Homo sapiens: one gene and its partners. The protein of the gene in region 2 purifies or fractionates together with the protein of the main gene of each other region. This does not show direct contact. Each region holds a gene or a part of one and is shown on either strand. Other genes may lie near its edges.

Evidence for each region.
Region 1: the proteins of FILIP1 (region 2) and MYL4 purify together in Homo sapiens (affinity purification with mass spectrometry; one large-scale study listed by BioGRID and IntAct). This does not show direct contact.
Region 3: the proteins of FILIP1 (region 2) and CAMKK2 purify together in Homo sapiens (affinity purification with mass spectrometry; one large-scale study listed by BioGRID and IntAct). This does not show direct contact.

Annotation. Positions count from the first base shown.
Region 1 is NC_000017.11:47,221,764-47,224,410, forward strand, and holds the end of MYL4 (myosin light chain 4), read left to right. Parts: coding exon 1-92; intron 93-616; coding exon 617-694; intron 695-1,250; coding exon 1,251-1,279; 3' UTR 1,280-1,294; intron 1,295-1,745; 3' UTR 1,746-1,916; downstream 1,917-2,647. UniProt on the Homo sapiens protein: Regulatory light chain of myosin. Does not bind calcium.
Region 2 is NC_000006.12:75,413,801-75,417,300, forward strand, and holds part of FILIP1 (filamin-A-interacting protein 1), read right to left. Parts: intron 1,397-3,500; exon of another isoform or gene 1,320-1,396; intron 1,179-1,319; coding exon of another isoform or gene 1,173-1,178; coding exon 897-1,172; intron 1-896. UniProt on the Homo sapiens protein: By acting through a filamin-A/F-actin axis, it controls the start of neocortical cell migration from the ventricular zone. May be able to induce the degradation of filamin-A.
Region 3 is NC_000012.12:121,244,612-121,248,342, forward strand, and holds part of CAMKK2 (calcium/calmodulin-dependent protein kinase kinase 2), read right to left. Parts: intron 630-3,731; coding exon 529-629; intron 5-528; coding exon 1-4. UniProt on the Homo sapiens protein: Calcium/calmodulin-dependent protein kinase belonging to a proposed calcium-triggered signaling cascade involved in a number of cellular processes. Isoform 1, isoform 2 and isoform 3 phosphorylate CAMK1 and CAMK4. Isoform 3 phosphorylates CAMK1D.

The DNA of each region.
Region 1 (2,647 bases), on a different chromosome or scaffold from region 2:
TGAGGACTTCGTGGAGGGCCTGCGTGTCTTTGACAAGGAGAGCAATGGCACGGTCATGGGTGCTGAGCTTCGGCACGTCCTTGCCACCCTGGGTATGCCAGCTGGGCAGAGATGAAGACCAAGTGGGAGGAATGGAGGGGTGGGAGGTGCCAAGGTGACATATGCTGGTTGGGTGGGGGGTGGTATACAAGGGTCTTTGCATCCTGAGGATAATGACCTGATCCAGGCCCTGTCTCCCTGGGCTCTGCAAGAACAACCATTCCCAGTTGGGTTTGCTCAGCAGGTACCAGGGTTTGGGAGAGGAGGGGAGAGCAGGTTGGCAGAGCAGGGCTTACTACTGAGGCCTGAGAGGTGGGACTCAGGGCTTCTGTCCTTGTCTTTGCCTGAAACACTGAGGCTCTGGAAGCTGTAAGGCAGAGGGGGAGGCTTCGGAGACTAGGCAAGACCTTTAGACCCTTGGCCGCACCCTTCAGAACCTCTGGGAGAGGCTTGGTTTGAACCACCTCCCAGATCCAGGCAGTCTTGGACCTTCACACTTAAGGGGGTACTTGGGTATTGCCAGTTCCTCCTTTGCCATCTGTAATTAAGAGCGCACCACCTCCCAAACCCACCGCAGGAGAGAAGATGACTGAGGCTGAAGTGGAGCAGCTGTTAGCTGGGCAAGAGGATGCCAATGGCTGCATCAATTATGAAGGTATTAAGCCGCGCCTTGCATCCCAGGGCAGCCAGGGATGGTAGGATGGGAACAGCTTGGGTGGGGTGGGCCCAGGAGCTGGAGGGTATGTGTCTGAGGTGGGTTTTTGTAGACCCCCCATTGGATGTTGTTCTGTTCCATCTTGTGAGTGAACCTCCTAGTGTAATGGCGGGAGCATGGATTTTGGAGATAGCTCTGTGATATATTAGCTGGTGGGCTTGATTAAGTCACTGATTTTCTCTGAGCCTCAGTTTTCTCATCTGAGGGATGGGGGTGATGCTGGCACCTTTCTCAAGGCTGTGGGGATTCATAGAGATAATGTAGTTCATTCCATTTGTGTTGAGAATCAGCATAGAGAGTGGGCACAGAGCAGAGTCTAGGTATCTGCCCTCCACCCACCTTCTCCCCACCAACCCCCAAATAAGAGCAGGAACTACACAGTCTGGAGAAAGGGGAGCAGGAGGGTTAGAAGTCAGGCAGTGTAGAGAAGGGACAAGTGGTTTATGGGCCTAGAGGCGCTGAGCCACATGGTGGCTGATTTTCACTTTTTTCCTAGCCTTTGTCAAGCACATCATGTCAGGGTGAAGCAGAGTCTTCCAGGTGAGTGCAGCCTCTCCCTCCTGGTCCCTTCCGGGGTCACATAGGGCCTTAAGAATAACACCATGTGCCCTAGAAGGCATCTGTCCCAGCCCTGACCCCTTAAGAGGAAACCTCTTGGGATCAGGAAGTGAGGACAGCCCTGCTCACTCACCATCTCCTGTCTCCTGCCTGCCCTTGCCTGTTCACCCTGTCTTGACCCTATCAGTCACATCCTCTTGCCTCTCCCAGGATCTCTCAAGGCAATGCCCTTCCCTCAGGCCTGGGGCCTCCTGTACAGGCTCCTGGGAGTGAGAAAGCCGATCCCAAGTGGAAGAGAAGGTCCCTGGCCTGTGCTCTTGACCCCGTTCTTCCTCACTTCTTTCCCTAGGTTTTCCCTGGGATCCCCCTGGGTGTGGTAAGGGGCTGGGTCTAGGAGGGTGAAATGCCCTTTCCTCCTAGCACTTTCTTTCAGGTGCCTGGCCCTTGGCTTTAGCCATACCAGGGTGAGTTAAAGAGAGGCCCCGGCTGGGTGAGCTGAGATGGAGTCCTCGACTTATCACCACACCACTGCCCCAAGGACCTTACAGGCCCTCCCTGTTAATAAACAGCTCTAACACGGCCAGGCTGGGCTCTGGGATTCTGACCAGTCTCTGTTTTGTTTGTTTTTTTAAAACTAATTAACGAATTGCATTGGTTTGCGTTGTGTGTGTGTGTGTGAGAGAGAGAGAGATAAAGTCACCTGAGGCCTCATGTGTGCTCAGAGAAATGAGTAGTATCTGGGAGCTAGGAGACAAGGACAAAAGCCTGTGGATCTAGAGATATTGGGGTCAGACCCAGGAGAGCAAGCTCTGGAAGGCCAGCAGCTTGAGGAGTTGTCACCTGGAGGAGTTTTATTCCCTTTGGGCTCACCCTCTACCTAATCACACCTCCAGATGGCAGGCAGAGAGGGGCCAGGCTGAGGCAGGGACTCCTCCTTTGGTCCTTGCTCTTGCTGCTTTTAAACAAAAATTGTTGTAAAATACACATAACATGAAATTTACCATCTTAACCATTTTTAAGCATACAAGTCAGTAGAGTGAGGTATATTCACATTGTTGTGTAACTGTATTAGTCTCTTTTCATGCTACTGATAAAGACATACCTGAAACTGGGAAGAAAAAGAGGTTTAATGGATTTACAGTTCCACATGGCTGGGGAGGCCTCACAATCATGGCGGAAGGCAAGGAGGAGCAAAGGCACATCTTACATGGATGGCGGCAGGCAAAGAGAGCTTGTGCAGGGAAATTCCCCTTTTAAAAACCATCAGATCTTGTGAGACTTATTCACTATCATGAGAACAGCATGGGAAAGTTACCTCCTACTGGGTCCCTCCCA
Region 2 (3,500 bases):
TATTGTTCCTCTACTTCCAGAAATATAATTGTTCAGGGCTCAGAAACTCAGAAGAATCCTCACTTCCTGCCTGCCTCCTGGGTCCCTAGAAACATAGATTTAATGGGAGGGAGGGACATGGCTCATGGCAACTAAATAAGATTGGTGGGGGTGGGCAGAGGAAAGAGCATAGGACGAAGAATCAGGAAGCCTGAGATGAGATCCGGACAAACCTTCAATCCTTCTGGGCCTCAGATTCTTCATTTATAAAATACAGATGATACCCACATTTTTATTGTGATCATACGAGATAGTGGATGTGAAAATGCTTAGGAAACTATTAGGTTCTTCATAATGAATGCAATGCTCTGCTTATTTGTGTGCATCTCAATTCCTATGATGTTGTAGAATATTGAGACTGAAAGTTAAAAAAAGAGAGAAAAGACTGGGCAATAAGGCTGGTTTCAACAAAGCCTTATTTACCTCTATCTCTCCTTCTCTCTTTCACTCTACCTCCTAGAAAAAAGCAAAATTAGCAATTGACCTGAACTCTCCATTTTAATAATCACTGCATTTCTACATTTTTCAGTCACAGTCAATGTCTAAATTAGATAACCTAATTGATTACCTACTGACCGAAAGGATCTGTATTAAATCACCACCAAAATCATATAATGAAGAAATTTTCTGCTTCTAGAGAAGTTTGAAGTTGGAATCAGCACTTTTTCATTTAGCATTCATTCAACAAATATTTATTTAGTGCAAACTTGTGCCAGGCACTAGGGATTTAGAAATAAGGGAAACATTCTCCTTTCCCCATAAAGTTCATTACTCAGAGAGGGGAACAGATTTACATTCTCTTATTTTATAGCTTAGAAACCAAAGACACAATAACAGTTGGGAAAGTTTGACTCTACCTGCAACTCCCCTTCCATTATACTGAGTAGTTGGATGAGGTCTTCTTTGGATAACTCCAGGGATTTCTTAGTTTTTCGTTCACATTCTCCAGATGTTTTTAGGTGTCGTTTGACAGTTCCTGAGGCCATGACATCATCCTCCTTCCTATTTGATTTCTTCTTCTTTTTTGCATCTTCTGAGAGACTTTTTTCACCAGCATTGCCGATGATGGAGGGCTTGGGACAGGAGATATGCCCATCAGATGCACTTTCACCACCTTGGTTTCGAGATCTCATTCCCACCTACAACACATACATAAAAAAAGATAAGATGTTCTTTACCACCATCAAAATTATTTTTGCCTAAATACTTAGAAACTTATAGCAGCTTTACCACATCGCCAATAAGGAAAAATCAAATTAACATGTCATTAAAATTTTCAGGAAACCCCTTTGATGGTCTTCAGAAAAAATGAAAGTAAGATTTTAACCTGACAAACCCCTCAAGCCAAATGATCAAGGTCAGTATCAATAGTGCTAAGTCATATTGCTGTTACATAGCCCCCATAATAATATATCAATATTGGTTCATTGATTGTAACAAACGTACTATACTATCCTAATGGAGATGTCAATTATAGAGGAAACTGGGTGTAGGGCATATGCGTATTAGCTTTGTAATAATGTTAGGAATCTAAAACTGTTCTGAAATAAAATAAAAATCAATAAAAACTGTTCTAAAATAAAATAAAAATAAATAAATAAAAACTGTTCTAAGATAAAATTAAAAGTTTATTTATTTATCAGAAAAATCAAACCTGAAACCCTGCCAGGAGCCAGTTGGATGTCACAGTGTGGAAAAAAAAAAAAAAAAAAAAAGCCCACATAGGGTGGGGGCTTAAAATGGACAGAGGAAAAGGGAAAAGCAAAGGGAAGAGGAGGGTGGTGTCATTTTTAGTGATATGCGATTCTATTTTCCCATAGCCTCTATTTTAAAATCAGGTCTTTTAATGTCATTTACAGTAATAAGAGCACAAAGAATTGGGAGAAAATGAATCAATTTCAAAATCAAAACTTAAAACAGTATTTTGAGGTAAAATAAGGAAAAAAGACAAAGCAGCAGCTAAGATATTAACTTGTCCCATGAGAAGCACATTCAAGTCATCCCATGAGGAATGCTTTACAGTTTCTCTGTCAGTCTCTGAGCAAAAGAATTCTACCAACAGGTATGTTACAAACAAACACACCGAACTCACAGGCTAGGTCTCAAAGTGCTGTGAAGAGAGCTCTAATATCCTGTGGGGTGTATTTCAAATTTTGCCTAAACCCTTAAATATAGTAGATTAGCTCATGGGCTTATTTAAAAACTCACAGTATAAATAGCCCTTACCATGAACAGCTAAGCAAAAAGATTTTCATCACTAATTCCAGATAAAATATAGGGACTTTGTTATATGAAAGTAAATTTCCTTTATGAACCCAACCATACTTAAGAAACTAAGGAAAGATTTTTTAAAAACATTAGGTTTGTAACACAAAAATTAACACAGTGTGATGTTTCCTTTCAGATAGTGAATATCCAATTCTTCCAATGAATCTTGAAATCTACATTAATGCTGTTTTTTTAAAAATTGAACTCGTAAGCAAATGGACGCTTTTATGTGTGTGTGAACTTTCTACAGCACCCCAGCTTTTAACAATATAAACCAAAGGAATATTTCTTGATGCTAGCACCCTGTTTTCTGGTTCACTCAATGATTAGTTCCCAATTTTAGAGTATCTTTTGGGTTTCCCTAGTCAACAAAGAATAGAAGTTTCTTTGTAATGGAAGCCAGGGCACTTTGGAACAAACCTACTGTATTTTATCACAGCTTATTTGTGGGCAGAATGGACTGACTAAAGCCCCAATCCAAAAAAAAAAAAAAAAGAAGTGATGAATAAAGAGTTTCAAATTTAACTCATGACCTGTTATGGCTCACAGTTAAGACACATGGACTTCCCTAACTGAATTGTGATTCTGTACGACTTCATACCACATGTGAATTCTTTTTATCTGAAATAATTTTCTCTATAAGATCTTAAAGCTCTTTGAGATGACATACCAAATATTGATTTGACAACTTTAATTTAAATCATTAAATCATGAGTTAACAGAAATCCCAGACAATAGTTCCCAAAGCACAGGAAGTGCTTAATCTTACACAGTATTTAAATCTGATTGTATTATGTTACATGCATTTACTCAATCACAATTATATCTGCAAACATACAGAAAATAATCTATTAGTATCAATTTTATATTAGTTCTTTCTAAAAATTTCATTCTGAAATTAATATTTTAAAATAAAGTTTATTATAGTATTATATTAATGGCTTTTACACAAAAAATTCCACCCATTTTAGAATTATGTAATTATTTTATATCATTATTCAGGTTGAAAGCTTTAGTCTCCTATTCCCTTCCACATTAATTCACTTTGGCTGATGGAAAATTTCATGTGGTAGACCCATGAGGTTAATTTTGTCTTAACAAATATTTTTCTTTTCTGATATTGAAATTTCACATTAATTACTTTTCCTTTGGCATGAACATAAAGATTTTTAGTCCTTTCTCAGTTAGATAAA
Region 3 (3,731 bases), on a different chromosome or scaffold from region 2:
TTTGCTGGAATCACCAGAGGGAGGGAAAAGGGAAGTGAGAAGGGACCCTTGGGATCCACGGGATGCCCGTTCCCCCACCCTGAGACACTCAGACCCCAAACACCAGCTTCATAGAGCTGGAGCCAGGGTGGCGTTGACAGCAGATGAGTGGACACCTCTCTGCATGGACACACAGGGTCCTGAGTGAGACCACACTGCTCGCCCAGCACAGAGCCTCAAACCTCCCCATCAGGCACTCACGGTCCCGGGCCACAAAAGTGCTTTTCTTCTGACTGACCAAGAGCCCCCCAGCTACAGTGCAAGTTCCCGAGAAAGGTAAACTTCAGGTGGATTAGCTGTCAGCAAAAGGAGGTGGGCTGAGCCCAGGTTGGGGTGCTGACTGTCCCAGTGCACCAGGTGGGTTTCATCTGAGTCTCTCCAGATGGCACCACTTCAGGGAGGACCTGTGCAGAGTGGTCTGGGCAGGGCTGCCCCAAGCCTAGCCTCCAGCCACCACTCCCCCACCCAAGAAGGCAGGCGGCCACTCACGTGAGCAAGTTTCCAGGCGCTGACAGTGAGCGTTCCTCCCGCCGGCTGCCCTCGAATGGGTTCCCAAAGGAGCGTTTACGTATCATGGTCTTCACCAGGATCTGAAGAGGGAGAAAAGAGGAGGTGGCAGGCAACTGCTTGGCCATGTGGGGGCGATTCTGGGCAACATCCTCCCTCTTCCTTCTCCCCAGCCCCTGCCAGCTCCCAGGGCTGGTGACCGATGGCAGACTTTGAGAGAAACTGGGCAGCACCACCCCGCAACCAACCCCCGCCGAAAGAATCCTCTGGGAAAAGGTGCTGTCCTGCACCACACCCTCAGCCACTGCTCAGCGTCTCTCCCAGGCCTCCCTGCTTTCCACCTCCCTCCCTCCCATCCCTTCCAAAACCCAGATCTGGTCCCCTCACTCCCTGACTCAGCATCCCCACCCAGAGGGGTCTGGAACTTGGCCTGTGGTCAGCCAGAGAGCCCCGGAAAGTTCTGGAGCAAGGACGTGAACCAGTCATTCTTGGTGATGCTCTTGGCTGCCATTTCCCATGAAGGGAATGGCCTGAGGGCCCCATAAGAGTCACTGGGCCCCTCACCCCACCCCAACCAGGGCACGGTGCCCCTTCAAGCTGTTTTGGGAATTCACAGAGCTTCTGACTTTTTAAGCATTTGCTGCTAACAAGAAAAATAAGTGTTTAAGAAACACTGATTTACCAAAAGATGCAAACACCCAAATGCCCATCAACTGAAGAAGATAAACTCAAAGCGGTCTGTCTGTGCAATGGAACATGATTCAGCCATAAGGAGTGAAGCACTGATCCATGCTACAACACAAACGGACCCTGAAAACCTTCTCCTACGTCAAAGTAGCCAGGCCCGAAAGGCCTCAGAGTGTAGGATTCCACCAGAATACACAAATCTATAGACACAGAGGGCAGGTGAGTGGGTGCCAGGGCTGGGGGGAGGTGAATGGAGAGTCATTGCTGATGGGCGGGGGTGTGAAGTAATGAAAATGTTCAGAACTATTGAGGAGATAATTGCATGTCACTGTGAATGTCCCAAATGTCACTGAATTGTTCACTTTAATTTTATGTTATGTGAATTCTACCTCAATTTAAAAGAAGGAGCGGGGGGGGGGAGGCGGGCGTGGTGGCTCATGCTTGTAATACCAGCACTTTGGGAGGCTGAGGCAGGTGGATCACCTGAGGTCAGGAGTTTGAGACCAGCCTGGCCAGCATGGAGAAACCGCGTCTCCACTAAAAATACAAAAATTAGCTGGGCATGGTGGTAGGCACCTGTCATCCCAGCTACATGGGAGGCTGAGGCAGAAGAATTGCTTGAACCTGGGAGGCGGAGGTTGCAGTGAGCCAAGACCACACCACTGCACTCCAGCCTGGGCAACGAGAGCAAAACTCCATCTCAAAAAAAAAAGAGAGAGAGAATGAAGGCCTCTTCCCCTACTGAGGTTCTTACAGTCACTGGGACATGCCAGCCCCTCTTTCCTCTGTGTCTGAGCAGATGTCACTCCCCAGGTGAGCCCACCCTGCCGCCTCCCCTGTGGCCTTGTCAACCCAGAGCAGGAGCTCCTCCTCTGTGAAGCCCCCAGCCCTTGCATCTCTCTGCACTGGCCTCTGATCACACAGGAGGCTGATTCTTCCCAGGTCCATCTTTCTTATAAGGCCAGGAGCCCCTCCCCCAGCCCCCCAGCCCCCTACCCCTGAGAGCAGGCACTGGGCTAAGCTCATCTTTGACACCTATGCCTGGCACACACTGGCTGCTCCGTGTTTGCTAAATGATGAACACATGCAGGGGGCCTGGACCTTGCCATCTTGTCCCAAGTCAGACCACTTCCCAGTATCTACCCGCCCATCCCTGCTCCAGCTGCCCTGGTTCAAACCCTGATTCAAACCCATGCTCTTGGAGTAAACATGTAAAACCTCGCCACACCCTCCCTCCACCTTCCTTGCCCTGCTTCAGTGGCCCCACCCAGTGTGTTAGCCCGTCCGCCCTCTCTCGGCGGAGTTAACACCCTACCATCCTCTCGGTGTCTATCCACTTCTTCCCAGTGGGTCCAAGTGTGCCTCCATTAGGGGCATGTCCTGTGGTCCCTCTACTGCACTGTACATACATTTGTTGGTTTGACCAGCATCTGCCTCTCAAGCATGGCAGAGGCCATGGGGGTTTTGTTCATCACTCCACCCAGCCCCTGCTCCCAGCACAGGCCTGAGAAACCACTCGGTGTTCAACAAGTGTTTCCCGTATAATGAATGCCTACTCCAGACCTCCAGGGCCAGACGCTTTCTCCCAAGAACCCGTCCCAGAGACCCAGGAAGGAAAGGGAGGGCAACTGATTCAGGACTGAGAACCTCCTGAGCCTGGAACACAGTAACCCACGGTGGGTGCAGAGTCCGACGCCAGCTGTCTCCTCGTCTACAGGCACAAGGGGTGGTTGAGGAAGGGTGAGTGGGTGTGGGTGGGTCTTCAACAGTGAAGGTCCTGCACAGCCCCAGGTGGGGAAAGAGTGGAGGAAGATGTGGATGGATGCCCCAGCCAGGGCTCAGCTTTGGGAGGAGGAGAGAGGAAGTGTGTGGGGAAGCAGAGAAGAGAGGTGCAAAGCTGGAGGAGCAGGAGCAGCATCTGGGCTCCTACAGGGGCAATCCTTCACAGCTGGACCTTCTGTGCCTTTCCAGCCAGTCTCAAGGGTCCCTCCCAGAGCCCAGGGGCCCGCCGGCCCACTGGGACTAGTGCTGGCCAACTGCAACCAGGCCTTTCGAGGTGGCTGTGGTGGGACAACCTGCTGGTCTCTGTCCCCAAGCCTGCTGCCTGGAACCTGGATCCCTGGGACTCTTGGTCTCTCTCTTGGAGCTAACTGCCCTCCTGGACAGGGACTTGGTCAGTGGCGATTCCCAGAGCCTCCAAGGTTAGGCCTGAGGACTCTACATTCTGGCTCCTTCTTCCTGGGTCAGGATCCAAATTCAAGGCCATAAAAGGGGACCTACTTGCTCCTAAGCAATTCTCACTCTCAGGAGATGGGCAGAACTTTCTGAGTGTGTGCGTGGAAGTCCCTGCCCCTACCCCTGGTGGCTGCCCACACAGCAGACGTGAGATATGCTACGCCATCCACCCTGGAGCCTAAAATTCCAGCTAGGCGGGAATCCTGGCTTAGAGACCTGGGCTCCGGCTCCCAACCCTTGCCCCTGCCTGGAACTTCTCCTAG